4 linked regions of the Homo sapiens genome follow. The protein of the gene in region 3 purifies or fractionates together with the protein of the main gene of each other region. This does not show direct contact. Each region holds a gene or a part of one and is shown on either strand. Other genes may lie near its edges. The genes, in order: UNC13A, LSP1, ERC2 and BSN.

The links.
Region 1: the proteins of ERC2 (region 3) and UNC13A purify together in Homo sapiens (affinity purification with western blotting, with the first as the bait; one study listed by BioGRID). This does not show direct contact.
Region 2: the proteins of ERC2 (region 3) and LSP1 purify together in Homo sapiens (affinity purification with western blotting, with the first as the bait; one study listed by BioGRID). This does not show direct contact.
Region 4: the proteins of ERC2 (region 3) and BSN purify together in Homo sapiens (affinity purification with western blotting; one study listed by BioGRID). This does not show direct contact.

Annotation. Positions count from the first base shown.
Region 1 is NC_000019.10:17,639,532-17,644,213, forward strand, and holds part of UNC13A (protein unc-13 homolog A), read right to left. Parts: intron 3,430-4,682; coding exon 3,314-3,429; intron 2,026-3,313; coding exon 1,862-2,025; intron 1,131-1,861; coding exon 980-1,130; intron 378-979; coding exon 309-377; intron 1-308. UniProt on the Homo sapiens protein: Plays a role in vesicle maturation during exocytosis as a target of the diacylglycerol second messenger pathway.
Region 2 is NC_000011.10:1,855,456-1,860,137, reverse strand, and holds part of LSP1 (lymphocyte-specific protein 1), read right to left. Parts: intron 675-4,682; exon of another isoform or gene 602-674; intron 1-601. UniProt on the Homo sapiens protein: May play a role in mediating neutrophil activation and chemotaxis.
Region 3 is NC_000003.12:56,457,810-56,462,491, reverse strand, and holds part of ERC2 (ERC protein 2), read left to right. Parts: intron 1-4,682. UniProt on the Homo sapiens protein: Thought to be involved in the organization of the cytomatrix at the nerve terminals active zone (CAZ) which regulates neurotransmitter release. Seems to act together with BSN. May recruit liprin-alpha proteins to the CAZ.
Region 4 is NC_000003.12:49,658,508-49,663,189, reverse strand, and holds part of BSN (protein bassoon), read right to left. Parts: intron 2,705-4,682; coding exon 628-2,704; intron 315-627; coding exon 1-314. UniProt on the Homo sapiens protein: Scaffold protein of the presynaptic cytomatrix at the active zone (CAZ) which is the place in the synapse where neurotransmitter is released.

The sequences.
Region 1 (4,682 bases), on a different chromosome or scaffold from region 3:
GGAGCAGGAAGAGATGTGGGGTTATGGAAGAAGGCGTGGGGAGGATGGGAGACTGCTTTTCAGGGGGATACAAAGGCTCCCCGGTTTCAGGCTGGGGGTTGATTAGAGCACCTCGAAGCAACTGGGGATCTGCTTGGATGCACCAAGCACATTACGGCAGGTAGTGCCCATGCAGGTGCACACATGCTGGAGGAACACATCGTACATGCGAAGATGGGTCCTCCCATGCACACACCTGCTGGTAGCTTTCCCCTCCAGGCACACACATGTGCGTGGGGTGAGCAAATTCTCATGCACACACTTCCTACCCGGTACATGGAGAGGTCAATCCGCAGGGAGTTATGCAGCTGGTCCAGGAGTTTCACGAAGCGCTCTTTCTGAGGAGGAAGGGGAGGAGGGAGGATGGATGGAGGCAGGACATGGCCGCCATAGTGGCTGAGCGCCTACTGTACAGTAAGTATACCTCATCCACCACCCTCATAATGTCCATTTCCATTCTATGGCATTTTTTTTTTTGTTTTGAGACAGAGTCTTGCTCTGTTGCCCAGGCTGGAGTGTAGTGGCGCAGTCTCAGCTCACTGCAACCTCCGACTCCTAGGCTCAAGCAATTCTCCTGCCTCAGCCTCCCAAGTGGCTGGGACTACAGGCACAGGCCACCACACCCAGCTAATTTTCTTTTGGATTTTTAGAAGAGACGGGTTTTCACCGTGTTGGCCAGGCTGGTCTCGAACTCCTGGCCTCAAGTGATTCTCCAGCCTCGGCCTCCCAAAGTGCTGGGATTACAGGCATGAGCCACTGCGCCCGACCTCCATTCTATAGCATTCTACAGAGGAATAAATGGAGGCTCAGAGACGGGAAGTGACTGGTGGAAAGTCACACAGCAATCAGGTCTAGACTGGGGACCCAGAAGTCACATCAGATCTGACCGGCATAAAGTTGGGCTCTCCCTAATTCTCCAATCCCAGTCCCCAGGACTGACCCCAAAGTTGGAGGCGGCGAAGCGGTCGGAGGCAGACACGTTGGTGGAGGCGGTGGTGTGTGCGTAGTAGGCATTGATGTTGGCGAGCAGGGTGCTCATGACGGCAGGCACCCCTGGGCACATATACTTGGAGGAGAGGCAGGCAAAGTGGCTGGAGAGAGGGAGCAGGAGGCACTAGGCCAGGGGTCCAGCCAGGATGGACCAAGATCCCCCCTAGAATGCCTCCAAGATAGCATCTGTGAGTGGGTCTCTGTCACCTCCTAAACCATCCCCTGCCTGATTCTGTCCTTTGGGTCTCCGCATCTCCTCTCCCCTCCATCTTTATATCCATTTGAGTTGCTCTAATTCTGCTTCTTTTTTTCTTTCTTTCTTTTTTTTTTTTTTTTGAGATGGAGTCTCACTCTGTCACCCAGGCTGGAGTTTAGTGGCGCAATCTCGGCTCACTGCAACCCCTGCCCCCCAGGTTCAAGCAATTCTCCCACCCTAACTTCCCGAGTAGCTGGGATTACAGGCCCAAGCCACCACACCTGGATAACTTTTGTATTTTTAGTAGAGATGGGGTTTCACCATGTTGGCCAGGCTGGTCTTGTACTCCTGGACCTGGAGTGATCCGCCCACCTCAGCCTCCTAAAATGCTGGGATTACAGGCTTGAGCCACTGTGCCCAGCCTCTATCTCTGCTTCTAAGTCTTCCCTCTCTTCCATGTCACTCCAGGTGTCAATCACAGCGCTCTCCTGATCTCCAGGGGAATTACGGAACCCACCACCACCACGCCCACTTCCTCTCTGGGTCTTCCCCCTGAGAATCCCTCCCACCCCAGACCTGCCAGTGCCCACTTGGTGACCTCCCTCTTGTTTCCTGCACCCCAGCCTGCAGTCTCACGTCATGGCTTGGTAGATGGACTCGACGCCGTAGCGCATGGCAAACTCGTCCACAATCTCCTGGGCTGTCTCATCGTAGTAAACCTTCCAGGCATCGTCACCCTTGGCATCTGGGATCTTCACGACCCCATTGTTCTGCACGTCGGTCACGAAGTGGAACAGGTTCTGCCACCATGGGAGAGAAAGTGTCATGGAGAGTGCAAGGGGTCGCCGGGGGTCAGAGGTCCCAGGGTCTGGGGCAGCTTACATCATCCATCTGCCTGTTTATTCATTAATTCATTCATCTACTCTTTTATCCATCCACACACCCACCCATCTAACTACCCCAAATTTCACCCATCCACTCTTCCAACCTTTCAGTAATTCAACCACACATCCATCCATCCATCCATTCATCCATCCCATACATTGATCCGCAACTTAATCCACCTACCCAATCATTCATTCTTTCATACAACCAACCATCCATCCACCCATCAATTTATCCAACCATCCATTTTTCGTCTGTCCACCAGCCACTCACAACCATCCATCTAAATATTCAGAAATTATGAACCCAATTATCAATACTTGCAATAGTTCAACCACACATCCTTCCATTCATCCACCCACCCATTCATCCATTTGTCCATCTGCCTATACATCCATCCATCCATCCATCCATCTACCTATCTACCCATCTGACTATCAACAAATTCACCTATCTACTCAATCTTCCTTCTAATAACTCAACCACACTTCCATCCATCCCATCCAATACAACTTAATCTGCTCATCCAACATTTCATCTATCCACCCAGTCAATCATCTATCCAGCAATCTATCTATCCACTCATCAAGTTATCCATCCATCATTCATCTATACTCATCCATCATCTAACAATTACCCCCAAATTCACCCATCCATACATCTATACTTTCAATAGTTCAATCATATATCCATCCATCTGTCCATCCATCCATCATCCATCTAGCCACGAATCTACCCACCAACTCATCCATCTATCCATCCATGTACTCACCCATCTCTCCATCCATCCTTTTATCTACTCATCACTCATTCATCTGTTCAATCATTCATTCATTCACCAGCATTTATTCAACAAACTAGTTCCTGGGGATAAGAGTTCTTTCCAGGAAACCCAGGCAGCTGGAAGAGACATACCCAGACACAAACGGCCCAATCCTGAGTGGTTAGGGCTGGAATAGAAGGAAGAACCTGATGATGAGTAGTGAGAGTCAACCTGGAGGCCAAGGTGGGCTTCCCAGAGGAGGTGACCCTGAATCTGGACTTTGATGGATAGGGAGGAGTTTTCCAGGTAAAGGGAATGGCATGGCGGGCAGTCTCAGAGGGCCAGGAGAGTGTGGATGGTGTGGCCAGAAAGAGGAAGAGCTGGGCAGGCAGGAATGGTGAGTGGAAGTGGCATGGGAGGGGCCGAGCAATGACCCTCACCTCATGCAGACAGGTGTACTGGACATGGTACGGGGCCACCTTCTCCTCGCCTTTGATCTCCACACTGATGTGGAGCCGGATGGCACCCGACACGGCAGATTTGTCAGTTCGCTTGTCTGCAGGGCAGAAAAAGAAGACAGTGTCAGAACTTCCCACTATAGCAGTGGGCAATTTTTTTTTTTTTAAGAGGGAGTCTTGCTCTTGTCACCCAGGCTGGAGTGCAGTGGCACGATCTCAGCTCACTGCAACCTCCACCTCCTGGGTTCAAGCGATTCTCCTGTCTCAGCCTCCCAACTAGCTGGAATTACAGGTGCCTGCCACCGTGCCCAGCTAATTTTTATACTTTTAGTAGAGACGGGGTTTCACCATGTTGGCCAGGCTGGTCTCGAACTCCTTACCTCAGGTGATCCACCTACCTCAGCCTCCCAAAGTGCTGGAATTACAGGCGTGAGTCACCGCGCCCGGCCAGCCATGGGCAAATTTTTTTTTATTTTATTTTTTTTTGAGATCTGTGGTCCAGGTTAGAGTGCGGTGGCGCAATCTTGGCTCACTGCAATCTCCACCTCCTGAGTTCAAGCAATTGTCTTGCCTCAGCCTCCCGAGTAGCTGGGATTACAGGCATGTGCCATCACACCCACCTAATTTTTTATTTTTAGTAGAGACGAGGTTTCACCATGTTGGCCAGGCTGGTCTCGAACTCCTGACCTCAGGTGATCCGCCCGCCTCGGCCTCCCAAGGCAATTTTTAATAGATACACGATTCTGTAGTCCTCCCAGACTTCCGGAAACTAAGGCTTTGGTGTCTCTCTTCTGATTGGCTCCCTAGGCTTGAGTCTCCCTGTTTAGGCTAGAATTCCTTAAGCCCTGTCTCTTCCTTCAAACAAGGATCCCAGACCTTGCTTCTTCACTCAGATTAAGTTCCTGGCTATGTGCCTCCCTCCTTAGACTAGCAGCCCTAGGCCCCACTTCTTTCCCAGTCTGAGCTCCCAGGCCCTGCCTCCCCCATCAGATCATGCTCCCCGGAGACTACACATCTTAGACACTGTTCCTGGGTCTGTGCCTCTCTCCTCAGACTAGGACCCCCTGGTCTTGTCTCCCACCTCCCCCATCAGAATGGGATATCTAGATGTCCTCCAATCTAAGAGGTTTCCGGGCTCTGCTCACCTCTCTCAGGCTGGGTCCTTTCTACCCCCTCAGATTAGGCTCATACACCCTGCTTCCTCCATTAGATTGGACTCCCCAGATTCTACTCAACTTCCTTACACAGGGTTCTTTGATCTGTAGCAGCCATCTCAGATTAGGATTCCCAAACAATACCTCCCTCTTTAGACTGGATTCTTTTCTTGTGGTGGGGGGTCGGGGGGACACAG
Region 2 (4,682 bases), on a different chromosome or scaffold from region 3:
GACATGGTTCATAAGCTCATGGCCCAAGGATAAAGCAGACCACCATGGCCCAGGAGGCTGAACACCTCAATAGAGCCTAAGCAGGGGCTACAGGGGCAGGGATCTGTCTTCATATTGACACATTCTCATCATCCCCGACACATACCTGCGAATGTATGTTCACAGAGCAGCATCCCAGTGAAAGGTGCTTTGAGCACTGAGAGAGCCCATGGGGACAGGGGAGGTCAGGGTGGTGGCCTCATTGGCTCCCGAGTGATCCCTGGTGGATAAATGTCTGTGATTTAAAGAGGAGGCAGCCTCCAAATGCTTGCAGCATGCATCTGTTCAGTGTGGCCCTCTGTTCAAGCAGGCACTGCTGACAGCAGGAGAATGGGCCAGAGCCACGGGTAGGGGGCAGGGTGGTGGGTCATGGGTGCTGGGGGCTGGGGGCTGGGGGCTGGGGGCTGGAGGCTGGGTGGTGAATGGTGGGTGCTGGGTGGTGGTGATGAAGCTCAGATTTTGGTTGGGACTGGGTCTAAGAGAAAGGCTAAAGGATTATTTCTAGATTCATCTGGAACGAATTGGCTAGATCCTTCTATCCCAAGTCCCATTGCTTTTCTGAGGGGAGGTACCTGGGACAGGAGGAGGAGGCAGCCTTGCCTCAGAAACCAAACTGTCAAAAGTGTAGGTTCCACTCAGGAAGGAGGAGCACAGGCACTTTTGAGATGAGGGGGACGTGCTCTTCTCTGGAGCAGAAAGAAGCAGTAGGTGAGGTCCCACCTGCCAGGGATGGAGCAGGAGAGTGACCCCTGCATAACCTTGAATCCTCATCTGCAGCCCATGAGCAGCTGGAGACTGGGGACTCTGGGAAGGGTACTGGGCTTAGAAGCCACCCCCTGCCCCAGTGGACAGAGTATCCTGGACACCTCAGCCACTCTCCCTGAGCGTGTGGTGTGTGTAGAGGCCCCTGCGTCTATACCACTGCTCCCAGGGAAACTGGGAACCCAGGAAGTATGCTGGAACCCTTCATGCTGTGACCTACAAATGCCCCACCAGAGCGGCCCTGCTCCAAGCACTGAGGTCAGGGGCCCATGTGCCTGCCTCCTCCTGCCGGGGGATACAGGGGACTCAGAGGCCCTCCCTGCCACAAACTCCCTTCCCCGACAACCCACAAGCAGCTTGGAGGCAGTTAGCAGATGGAGTTAGGATAGGACTTGCCTGGCCCCAAGAAAGGGCCAGGGGCTTTCCTCCTGCCACCCCTGCTCAGCATCTCCCTCCTCCCTTGTCTGCCTGTGTCTGGCACTGGTGGGGCCGTGCTGGGTGGGACACGGCTAGGAGGCCTGGCTTTCTCAATCCCCTAATCTCCTATCAACCCCACCCCCATGCAGCCCCTCCAACCTCTTTTCAGGTCCCTAGATGTTGGGGAGGGGATGGGGGCTGGGCCGGCTGTAGAGAGTCTAACCCTGGGGAAGGGGCCCTGCTGGGCTGCCCCCTGGCCGAGCCTCTCCAGCCCGCTCGCTTCCCTCTCTTCTAAGTATCAATACAGCCTCGTCCACAGCCAGGGCCTGGTTCTGTCTGCCTCAGCGCATGTGGAAAGCCCTCTTCGATTGCCTTATGGTCCTGGGCTGCCATCTCCCAGAAGGTCTTTAGTGGCCCCCAAAAAGATGCTGAGGGCTGGGATTTGGGCGGGGCTGGGCTGGAGGGAAGTGGAGGACCTTGCTGGTCCTGCAGCGCCCGGTCCCAGTTCCGCTTTTCGGGACGGTCCCTTTAAGTGCTTGCTGAGCTTGGGCCATGAGCAGTGCTCTGGTGCTCTTGGGAGCCTTTGAGTCCAGAGTGGCTGGTGTGTGGTGTGGGGTCAGAGAGACCCCGGGAAGGGCAGCCCAGCCCAGCTCCCTCCTGGTGCCCGCAGGTCTTGTGGGCCCTCAGCACCCGAACCCCACAGGGGCAAGGACTCAGGCCCCTCCCCAGGCAGGGAGCAGCCCTTGGACAATGCACTTGGCCCCTGTGAGCCTCGGTTTCCGTCTGTGAAATGGGAGGCTCCAGGGACCTGCCTCACAGCTCCGGGGGATGAAACAAGAGCCTTGGTTTAAAAAGCTTGGCAAAGGCAGGGCGCGGTGGTTCATGCTTGTAATCCCAGGACTTTGGGAGGCTGGGGCGGGTGGATCACCTGAGGTCAGGAGTTCAAGACCAGCCTGGCCAACATGGTGAAAGCCTCTTCTCTACTAAAAATACAAAAATTAGCCGGGGGCAGTGGCAGGTGCCTGTAATCCCAGCTACTCAGGAGGCTGAGGTGGGAGAATCTCTTGAACCTGGAGGGCGGAGGTTCCAGTGAGCCGAGATTGTGTCACTGCACTACAGTCTGGGCAACAGAGCGAGACTCTGTCTCAAATAAATAAATAAATAGCTTGGCAAAGACTGGCATGGAGTGAACGCTTGGTCTGAGTGGCTACATTCTGAGTGTGCAGATGGGGAAACTGAGGCTTCAGAGGGGTGCGGCTTACTCATCCAGAAAGCACTCCGAGGGCCTATAGCAGCCGAAGCAAGGCCAGCCCTGGGGCCTTGCAGCCCATCCCCCTCCCGCCGCCCCAGCAGTGGGATCTCAGGGGCTGGGACTGCAAGGCAGAGCTCACGCCCCCACCCCTCACCAGGCTGAGGACTCAGAGCGGGAGACCACTGGGCCCTTTCCACTGCCAACACCCTCCTCTTCTCTAGGGCTCACCCATCCCTCTGGCACGTTCTCAGGGAACTGAGGTGGAGACAGGCTGGCCCGTAGGGTAGCGGAGCAGAGGCCCACCATCCTGCCACCCCAGGGTGTCACCGGCCAGGGCCTGTCCCAGCTGGACCCCAGACCCTCCTGGCACTGCCCTTGTGTGGCTCCAGGATTGTTTTAGGAGACACGAGGGAACCAGGAAGGGGGCGCAGGAAGAAAGGATTCTGGCTTCCAGAATCAGCGGGGGTGGGGCCTGTGATGCTCCCACTTGTGCGACCAGCCCAGCTGGGTGTCGGTGGACAGCAGCGCCTGCCAGCCCACGAGGAAGAAGACATCCTTCTGCTTCCCTGGGAAACTTCCAGATGCCTCAGACCCCTTACCCAGGGCAGGAGGAAGGGGACCTCCCCAGGGATCCTGGGTCCAGACATCAGGTCTTGACCACAGGAAGGTGTAGGGAGGGAGCCCCAGGGCTTAGCCCTCAATCCTAACCTCCCTCAGCAGCCCCTGTGGGGCTAGGGCTGGGGCTGAGGTGGCTTCCCCAACTGTCCCCAGCTCTGCCCTCTTTCCTGAGCAGTCGTGGGCACCGCTGGGGGCTCTCAGGGCCACCTGCCCCAGCGTGGAGCATTGCACATCCTCCAGGTGGTGCCTGGCCTTGGCTCGGAGGGCAGGTGGGCGGGAGGGCTGCCCAAGGGCCTGGCTGCCTGGGGGGTTCCATCCCATGGGCTCCTGCTGCTCAGATGAAGACTTCCAGGGGGCTGCCGGGGGCCTCCAGCCCCTTCCTCCTTCAGAATCTGGAGCTCTGAGGGTCTCCAGGGACAGATGGCCAGAAGGAACCCTGCCAGAGCAGCCCCTCAGGTCATCCCTGCCCTTCCCAACTCAGCTCAGCACACAGAGAAGCGAGGGAGGCTCCGATGGGCCAGGCGGGGCTCCAGGACTGGCCCTGTCCATGGCAGGTGCTGCCAGAGCCCTGGGCAGCGGCCTCCCACCGCGGGCTGGGCAGGCCTTTGAAGGTCTGCAGAGGAGCAGGGCGGTTGGGTGATGCTAGGAGGGGCATGTGCCAGGGCTCTGACACCTTCCAAAACTGGGAAGAGCTGGGAAAGCTGGTGGGATGGGAAGTGAGTTCAACCAGGCCAGGAGGGCCTGGCATGGCCACCCAGGGGCATGGAGTTTGCCTGTAGCTGGTGAATGGTTCTTTCCGTGGGAGACACGGCCTGGTCGCTCATGGGGAACAGACTGGGGGTAGGGTCATCCTGATGGGGGCCTGGGCTACACAGGGGCAGACTGAGAGGGCAGCCAGGGTGTCTGTGGGACAGGGTGGCGGCAGGCAGACTTGCCTTCTAGGTGTGGACATGGGGTGGGCACGCCTGGGCGGGTGGGCACCCCCGGGCAGCTGGGCCAAGGACAGGCACTGCAGCCAAAAATGCAGTGTGACCCCAGGGAGGGTACACCCCTGCAGAGCTGGGCTCCAACATCTGGATATGTCGAACCCAAGGTCTGAGAGGGCAACCTGACCCTCCCCAGCTGTGGACCAGGACGCCCCGTCCTCATCGCCTCAAGGCCTCCAAGGCCAGATAGTTCCTCAGTGTGGGGAGAGCCTTGCTCTTGGGGGCTATAGAGGGCAGGCATCCCCCAGCGTCACCAGAGAGTCCCCCCAGAGCCACAAGGCAGCTCTGTGAAATCCTCGTCCCTGCCCCCAAGGGACAAGGACAAGCTAGTGACTGTCTGCTGGACAGCGGGGCGAGACAGGAGTGCCCCCGAGTGGAGGAACCGCAGTCCAGCCTGGCTGGTAGCCGAAGCGGAGCCTGGACCCCGCCCAGGGTCAGGGGACCTTCTTTGGCCTGAGGCCTCGTGGGAGAGGACAGTCCTGTCCTGGGGGCATCTGAGAGACCACATCATGGAGGGGTGGTTCTGAGGAATCTGGCCCCGTCCCGGGCAGTCTGAGGGGAGGGGCCACATCATGCGACAGTCTGAGGGGCTGGACCCACTTGTCCAG
Region 3 (4,682 bases):
GCTAGTGAGTATAAAGCCATTGAAAAAGACAGAGACCAGAGGTTGGGAGACCACTGAGGCTTGAGTGCATGACATACATGCTTTAGTACGAGTGAAGGTGGAGGGAAAACTGGGCATGAAACAGAGCTGGGGACATGAGAAGATAATGGAATTGAGTGAACCCAAATCATAGTTGCTGTTAACCTATGATCATCTGAGAGCAAAATGAAAGTCTCCTGAAGGCTAGTATTCACTTCTACTGATGGCTTCACATTTGCCCAGAAGTAGGGAATGAGTAATGTAGAGAATTGCTAATGAGATATGAATCACTATTTCATGCTGTGGGGTGGGGTCTTCTACTCATTGTCAATACCATTTATTGAGCCCTTGACGACCTTGTATTAAATGACTTTGGTCTGGGTCTGGCTCCACTGTGCCAGTTAAAGGTAGCAGAGATGAAGGGTAAGGTCAGAAGGTGCTGCAGTGGTACATTAGATTCTGTCCATGGACTTATTTCTGCTAAACATTCTAGACCTTCCTTGAGGGGTAGATTGGGGTTACTTTAACTGTCTGTGTCTCCTTTTTTTCTTCTCTTTACTTTTTAAATTTGTAAAATAAAGGATTTGGTTTACATTCATAGTTTTCAAATGTTTTTCAGCTGTTAAAACTTTGTTTCCTAAATAAAAATTTATCTGGACCCTCAGTATATTTATAGAAAGCAGAGCTGTTCTGGAAATTTAGGGTCCAGATTTATGTTGTATGAAGTGTCTTTATGTTGAGGCCACTGCTCTAAAATGACACCTACACACCCTTCCTGGTTCATGATTATGTGAATCTTATAGCTGTTCAGATGTTTTATTTGTGCATCATCTTTAACAAATCCCTTTGTTATTCCACAGGTTGTGTCTTAATATCATCTGTGGTAGAGACTGTTAATGTTCCCCATAGCCACTTTTTCTTTCCTTCCAGGCATATGTTGGAGGTGGCTTGCATCACTTCCATGCTAGAATATTTGATTTCCAGTGTGAGAGCACCCAGTGCCCTCTTCTACTGCAATGATTACGGAAATGTGTGTTGAGATGGAGCCCTTCATCTGCCTGGGCCTTTCAGTCACTAAATGAACACAGCTTCCCGTCAACTGGAGTTGGACATATAGACCAAGAAGTAAACTTTGGTTGTTTTAAGCCATGAAGAGTTTTGTGATTTTTGGTTTCTGCAGCACTTTTCTGCTTATCTTTACTGATACACCATCTTTGAGCACATCTGCTAAACTTTATGTAACTTACTTTTTGGGTGCCTTCTGGATTAACCTGAAGCCTGGCCAGCTTGTCCTTACTTTGTAGTTAGGAAAAGAGTGGGCTGGCATCTACATCCGCTGTCCGTGCTGGTCTCTGTGCTAATAGATTCTTTGAATTGAAAGCTTTATGCTCAATAACATTTGTTTTCATGCTTAAAAAGTTCCTGAAGACATATTGTATAGTGCACCTCACTGTTCTTTAAAAAAAAAAAAAAAGCCTTTATGCCATCTTGCTTTTTTTTTTTTTTTTTGTATTTTTAGTAGAGACGGGGTTTCACCGTGTTAGCCAGGATGGTCTTGATCTCGTGACCCCGTGATCCGCCCGCCTCGGCCTCCCAAAGTGCTAGGATTACAGGCGTGAGCCACCACGCTAGGCCGCCATGTTGCTTTTTCAAGTATAGAATCTCTGTGGCTTAGAGAGGAATAATGACTATAAGTTACCATAACAATGGCTGTTATTAAGTAGTGATTGATTTGTGAAGTATTTATTGAGTATCTACTTTGTGTTAGGCACTGGGGGTACAGAGATGAACAACAGATAGTTCCTTACTACTTGGAGCTAATACTCCAGTTGGAAGTGATGGATACGTTTGCTCTGTTATATGAAGAGCACCATTTATTGAGCATTTACTATGTGGTAGGCACTGTGCTAGGTGCTTTATATTGCTCATTTCATATTACCTATACAGGTAAATGTATTATCCCATTTTATAGGTGAGGAAACTGAGACTCAAATAATTTGATAAGTTCCATAAAGGCAGGAGCTTTGCCTTTGGCTGTATCCCTAGTGCCTAGATGTTCTGTAAGTATTTGTCAAATGACTGAAGGAACAGAAAAACTTGCTCAGAGTTAATGCTGTGGCAGAGCCAGAGTTTGAATCCACCTCTGCCTTACTCTCAAGGCTGCTAAATTATCACTAGAGAAAGTAGAAACAATGAGTGGCCCCACAATTACAACAGAAACAACCAACAAGCCTTAACCATTGTCAATGCCAAAAGCACCAGGAGCTCTAAGCTGTCTCACTTTCACAGCCAGGGCCGAGCCTTCTTTGTGATTTTCTGCTCATTCTTTCAGCTGGGGAAGTCCAAGGCCACTACATCACTGACTTAATTGTTAATATAATTGGTTACCCTTCTCTTGGGCCAGTTCATCTGCTACTCCAGCCTAATTTCTTCAGCACTTGGCTGGCCAATTCCCAGGGCGTGCCTCAAAGTTCTGCTCTTAACCTCTTGGGCATTACTTCTCCACTTACATCTTCCAGATTTGTTGCTTTGAAGTTGCATTTCCTCTGTTCTTGAACTCATGTTGACTCTGCCAAGCAGAGTTCGCTTGGTCAGAGCCCAGGAATCTCTAGTTGCTGGCACCTAATCAGCACTCAACAAAATTAAAAAGAGAGAGAGTGCGTGTGCATGGAAGAAGAGAAGAAAATAAATAAAGGCAGGAAGAACCTTCAGGAAGGAACTAAGTGGTTATTTTTTCCTGGAAGTCAATGGTGAGATTATAGCCCCACTGGATGAAGAGTTGGAAGGGCATCTGTGAGATATACCTGAAAACCAAAGGCCAGCCGCAATGTTCATAGACATCTTATACCAGCAACTTAGTTTTGCTATGGTTTATTTTTCAGAGTCTACATTTTGCTCACTTAATTATCCTGTGTGAGTGTGTGTGTGTGTGTGTGTGTGTGTGTGGTCTGATAGCATTAGCTCTCTTTTCCTGTCTTAATACTTTCCACCCCTAAAGGTAGTTGTCATTCTGTGATTTCAGGGCATGAATGAGTTGCAGGCAGCAAAGTGCATTTACCCTAAATGCATTAGGAGCAAACTATTAATTCAAGGCAACTTCTTAGTGGGTCAGAAGACAAGAGCTTGAATGGGAATTGAGCAATGTGACTGTTCTTTAAGAATATGCTCAGATCCTTATGCAAACCGTGAAAGATTTCTGCTAAATGGTATGACTAATTGCAGTAAGAAAGAGCAGGGTTTCCTATAAGAAATTGAACCTAGTTGTGCACTGTGGTTACCAGTTCTTATGTGGCATATTTCTCTATAATAAGATAGGTGTGGTCAGGAGTTCATCCTCTATGGGCCTGAGGTGATTGAAGGTGGGTTTGGGGTCTGGGAGCTGCTCTGGCAGTGAGAGTTGAGCAGCTCTGCCAGATGTGAGGTTAGGGCGGTCCCATGATCACTGGTTATTTTCTCAGTGATACTGGTGGGCATCAAATTTCTACCAAGATGTCTTTCTTGTGCCTGGCTTGAGGCAGATTAGCCATGCTCCGTTTTGTCAGCCAGCTCCAGCTGTCATCACCTCGAGGAGCAGTCGTGGTTCAAGGGGCGGGTTCCGAGAGGAGCAGGGTTGTTGACTCTTTTTTTACATTGACATCTCAGGAGAGGATTTTTGATGTCTTTTCTTTCCTTCTGGTGATGTATGTTTTTCCTTCCCTTCTAAGGCTGTAACATTCCCTCCTCCCCCTTCTTTGTTTCGCATTTTGACCCTTTATTCGTATTGTTCATGAAGCCTCTCCCTGACAGGAAGCAGGAGGTTGGGTAGTGAGTGGGATAACAGCGTGGCATTCGTATGGGCTTGTTGAAAATAGGTCCTGTTTGATGCTGGGTGGATACAAAAGCACCTGGGTCTTAGTGGCTGCTGTTCATCAGGCTTGTGAGCGTGGAGCAGTTAGTGTGGGCACGCAAGGGGAATTCTTCACCTTTTTTGTTAAAGCTGAGAAATAACTCTCTTTTTATACATGGGCTTTGAATGCATTCATGGGCCACCTTGAATTCACAACATGAATAGTTGCTTAGAATAACTTCAGAGCAGATTCTTTTGGATACAGAGACATAGCACTGACCTGGGGTCACAAGCCCTAAGTTCCCTTTCTGGCTTTGCCACTAGCTTTCTCCTTATTTGGGATCTCTGTTTCTCTATCATCTAGTCCAATTTGCTTCAAAGGCACTCTTCTAGATCTATTATATATATATTTTTACAACAGTTTCTTCATGCAAAGGTTCAACTAAGTAATTATCATTTTATTAGTTATTTTAACCTGGAAAACAGGAGTGGCTGGTGTTCTTTCATAATAGACATTAGTAACAAAGAATTAAGCCATTCTGTTATGTAGTCGTCGTAAAAGTGTATGCTTGCTTTGTGCCAGTCTTCTTCTGGGAATAGGGTGTGTACACGTCAAGAGGACCATAATAGAGCAGGTAATTTTGTAGGGGAGTTCAGGGATTGTAGTATCCAGTGGAGCACCAAACAAGTAAGCAGGCAATAATGGATGCTCTTTGGGGGAACATCCAGGCTATCATGGAAGACTTAGGAGAGTCATGGATGAAGAATGAAGGAAGGCTTCCTGAAGAAAGTAGCACCTAAAGTGTCACTGAAGGGTAAATGGAATTAGCCAGAGGAG
Region 4 (4,682 bases), 6.8 Mb from region 3:
ATGGCGACCCAGGTCCCGAGCGTGTGGTTTGGCAGCACGCCGTCCCGGCTCCTCACCAGTGTGGCGGCCTGAGTGCCGCCCGTGGTCACCGTGCCGGTGTTCCTTGGCTGAGGCATGGCGGCCTGGGCCACCCTCATCATGAGGCCACAGGCCCTCCTCAGGGGGTTCATCGTAGTCATGGTAGCTGTGCCTGGCAGGGCCTCGCTTCTGGGAGGAGGAGGAAACTGCATGGCCCCCGTGGTGCCTGAACCGGTCAGAGCGGGCATCCCGGGGCTTATCAAACCAGTCCGTCTCCTCCTGGCCCAGGTGATACGCTTCAGAGACCAAAAACAGAATACCATCAACCCCCGGGCTAGCCGCAGGGGGAGGCCTAGCTGAAGCCATGCAAAGAAACCAAGAGAGTGGGTGCCACAGCCACAAGCAGATCAGCAGGCCCCCAGCCCACCCTCCCGCAACCACGGACCAGGGCACAGATGGAGCAGGCAAGGGCAGCCTGCCTGCAGCAGGGCCCACCAGATGAGGCGCCAGACCAGACCCTGCTGGGACATCTTAGGGCCCAGGGCCCCACAGGTAGGCAGGCCCCCCAGCTGCTGAGTATCCGCAGAAATCACCCCTGGCTGCCATTACCTTCGCTGTCGGAAACCACGCAATGGGAATCATCCAGGATGTAGCCCTCCTCACGCTTATATGCGTGGGCCCGAGGTCCGTCCTTGACATGTTCCTGGACATCAGGCATGGAGTGGCTGGAGCAGAACTGTGGGCAGGTATCCCCGCCGGGAGGGAGGGGCCCTCCGGCAGGGCGGGGCCTCCCCAAAGGACTGACGGGGCTCTCCTCTTCAGAGGCCTGGCTCCGCATGGGGGGTCGTACCCGGCTGTGGGCCATACTTAGGGATGAGGGCTTGGGGCCCGCTTTTTGAAGTCGCTCCACAGCCTCCCGTTCCCTTTCGTACCCCTTGCCCCAGCCACTGAAGTCGTGGCTGGACAGCTTCTCCCCACTGTATGCAGAAGGTGCCCGGGACCGGCTGCTCCCGCCATAAATGCGGTCGTCCTCCACTGCGTCCCGGCTGGACATCCCATAGTATTTTTGCTGCTCATACACGTTCTTCTTGAGCCCATAGGTGATTTCATCCTGGAACTTCCTGCCCCGAGAGACCAGGCTGCTGCTGACTGCAGGTGGGGGGTAGGACGCCAGGTCTGACTCTACGTCTTTGGCCTCTTCAATAGGCGAGAACTTGGATATCTTTTGCTCCATGCCCTGCTTCCGGTGCTTGCTGCGCTTTGAGGAGATGGCAGCTGGAGCCAGGCTCTTGGAGGGATGCTTGGGCCCCATGGGCCCTGGACCATACTTCTCTACTCGAGCCCCATGCCTGTAGTCACTGTCACCATAGTAGTGGGTACTGGCTGGTCGACCATTGCTCTCCATGCTCCGGAGGTGGCCACCCTTCCCGCGGGGATCGTATGAGTCCTCCTCAGATTCCTCTTCTCCTCTGGCATAGCAGCAGGGCAGTGTGGGCCCGTCAAGGACACCTGGTTCTCCAGGCTCCTTCCCTGGACGCCCACTGCTGCCTGGCCCCAGGGGCTCCAGCCGTTGGCTATCAGGAGCAGTAGAGGTGCTGTCCTTGGTCAGTTCACTGATGTCATCAATCATTACGTAGTTTCGAGGAACGTTCTGCTCCAGACTGGTATAGTGTGAGTCAGAGGGGTAGGTGGGGGCTGGGCTCTGGCTCACACTGCCACGGTCACCAGCCCGGGGCACCTCAGGGACCTTGCCCTGCTCATAGCCGCTGCTCACTGCTGGGCCACTGTAGCTGGTTTCAGATGGGGCTGAAGACATGGGCACAACGGGGCTGGCGATCACCTCATAGTTGGTGGGCACCTTCTGCTCCAAGTCGGCTAGCGATGTCTGGCGTGGCTTCTGCAGTGGGGCACGGCTATCAGCGGGGACTGGAAAAAGGGTGCTCTGTGTGGTTGGCATGGGTGTTTGGCCTGCATAGTGGCCTGTGGGGCGGAAAGCCTGCTGGTTTGGCAGGCCAGGCTCAGCTGGGTAACTGGCACCAGGAGGAAAGGCAGGAGCTGGGTACGTGCTGGGGCCAGGGTAGGTGGGGGCCTGGTGGGCTGGGAATCCGTTCTGAGTTGGCCCACCACTGCCTGCAGAATACTGTGGGGCTGGAGGCTGGAAGCGGGGCTGCTGGAAGGCAGTGGGACCAGAGGGGGTGGCAGGAGCAGCGGCAGTGGCAGGGAAGTCCACAAACTGGCCAGCGGGAGTGGTGCAGCCCTGGAGCCGCAGCTGGTTGAGCTCACTGTCCGATAGGTAGTCACGATGCTCGCCAAGACCACGCAAGGGTGGGTAGTCACGGCCACCCCGGTCTTTGGCCAAAGACTCTTTGCGTTGTGTGATACCCAACTCCAGGTACTTGAGCTTGGCGTCAATCTCCTTCTCCTCCTCATCCAGCTCTGCCTGCTTCTTGCGCAGTTTGGTGGACTCATGCTCCACCAGCCGCAGGTCCCGGTCCAGCTCCCGGAGCAGGCTGGCCTTGGTAGCAGGGACAGTGGTGGGCCCCGTCAGCCCTCGCTGCAGCAGGCTGGCTGCATACAGCTGTGGGGAGGCCTGGCCAGCCAGGGGAAGGTGAGCCTCCTCTGGAGGGGGGCTGGGCAGTGTCCGCTTCACCTTGCGGACCAGGCTGTTGGGTGGCAACGCCGACACCTGAGACAGAGGGAAGGGTGGGCAGCACTGAGACCCAAGGTGTGGTGACTTGATGGGGTGTGGGGTGGCAGAACCCAGGCCTGGGCTGGGGAAGGAGCTGGGTTCCATCTTGCTGGTGCCCTGATTTACCAGGCAGCCTGGAGGCCTACCCTGCCCACCCATAGGCCTTGGTTTCTTTGCCATAGAGGGAAGATCTGTGATTATTTTACAGCCCTTCTCTTTCCCAGAGCTTTGGGAAGCAGGAGGGTACGGGCAGATTCCCTTCATGCCAATGTCCTGTACTGGCCCAGCACATGGCTTTGAGAACCCCTGCACATCTCCAATGGGCCTGCCACCCTCTGCCTCACATTGAGGTAAGAAGAGTACAGCTGTGGCTCTGGGTTTGGGGCCTAGCAGCTGACAGGGGTTGAGATCAGTGGAGTATGAACAGGAGGCATGGAGTGGAGAGGGTCCTGGGCCCGCCAGGCTCCCTAGAGGATCATGGGAAGGGACACATGTAGATTGTATGCCAATCGTGGCAGGCTCTGAGTCATTCTGCATCCTGCCCTAGTCCTCTCTAAAGTGGAAGGCTCCTCAGCTGCCTGCCCACCCTCTTCCTCTAGTGCCCTGCACTGCCCTCTGCCAAACCCTCTGGGCTGTGCTCTTGGCCTGGTCCCCAGCTCCCTCCATGTCCCTCGGTCAACCTGCTGTTCTCTGGAGCCACCAGTGCACCCGTAAGTCCTATCCAGCCCTACCTCCAGCAGCATGGCTTCCTGGTCAAGGTTCCCTAACAGTGCCTACCATGGGGTCCTCCTTGCCTACCCTAGACACTCTGCATTGCCTGAAGGTCCACATTGCCTGGTAGTTCACTCTGTCTTCTCCCTTTTTCTCTCGCTCCTAGCCTTCCCAGAATGCCCCATGCCCTTGGGTTTCATGGACCACCCAAATTCCAATATATACTGGGAAGTGACTCCTATAGGATTCTTACTTTTTACCTTGCCAAGTAACTACCTAAAAACCTCCCACCTACATCCACCATATGTCATAATAAAAATTATAGTGTGCCCTCAAAATTTCAGGGTGGGCCTTTTATGGAATAAATTTAGCCTTTTGAACCCCTCACTCTGTTGTCTCTTTTCTTATTTTGGCCACGCATCATGAGTGCCTATCATGGCCTGGTCTCACATGGCCAGCCCATGGGACCTCTGTGCCTGCAGCCAGGACCACCCTGCCTCTCTGACCTGCCCTCCCTGCCAGCCTAGAGTCCTGATCCCACCCACACCCCTATATGGCCTGCATACACCAAGACTTCACTACCCAAGATTATCACCTCCACAAACCCCATTCTAAGGCTCCACTTTTCTCGTCTCTGTGTCACACCCTGAAAATGGGCAAATCTACCTTACGATGCCTCTGGCTCCTGCCTCCTCTGCCAGGTCTCTTCCTTCAGCCCACCCTCCCACATTCTGCCCAGGAAACTTTCCAAAACATCTGCTTTGTCCCATCTCACATGCCTAAAACCTCCAGAGGCTTCCAGGGTCTTTAGGAAAAGCCCATCCTCCTCAGCCTGGCACTCAGTTGTTGGCATTAGGCCCTCACAACCCTCTATTCTCACTTTGGCTGCAGCCCACAGCCAAGCCACTTCTCACAGTCCCCATCCATCACTGGCAAATAAAGCCACAACCAAGGGTAAGCTTATGCTTCTGAATCCCCTATCTAGGGGAGCAGACAGATGTGTAAACAGATTTACCGAGGGCCAGGTAGGGGCAGAGAACACCCTGGGGCAGAGAGCACACTGCAGCCCGCTGGGATGGGCCTCTAGTGCTAGGCCATAGGGGTGTGGGCTTCCTGTGTGGCAATGGAAACCAGGCCAGGACTGAGAGGACGAGAGCAGCCGCGCCAGGTTCATATGACTGATTTTCTTAGGAAACACCCATAGATTAAGTTTGGAGTGGAAGGGGTCCAGACTAGAAGTGAGAGCTGAAGAGGCCTAAAGGGG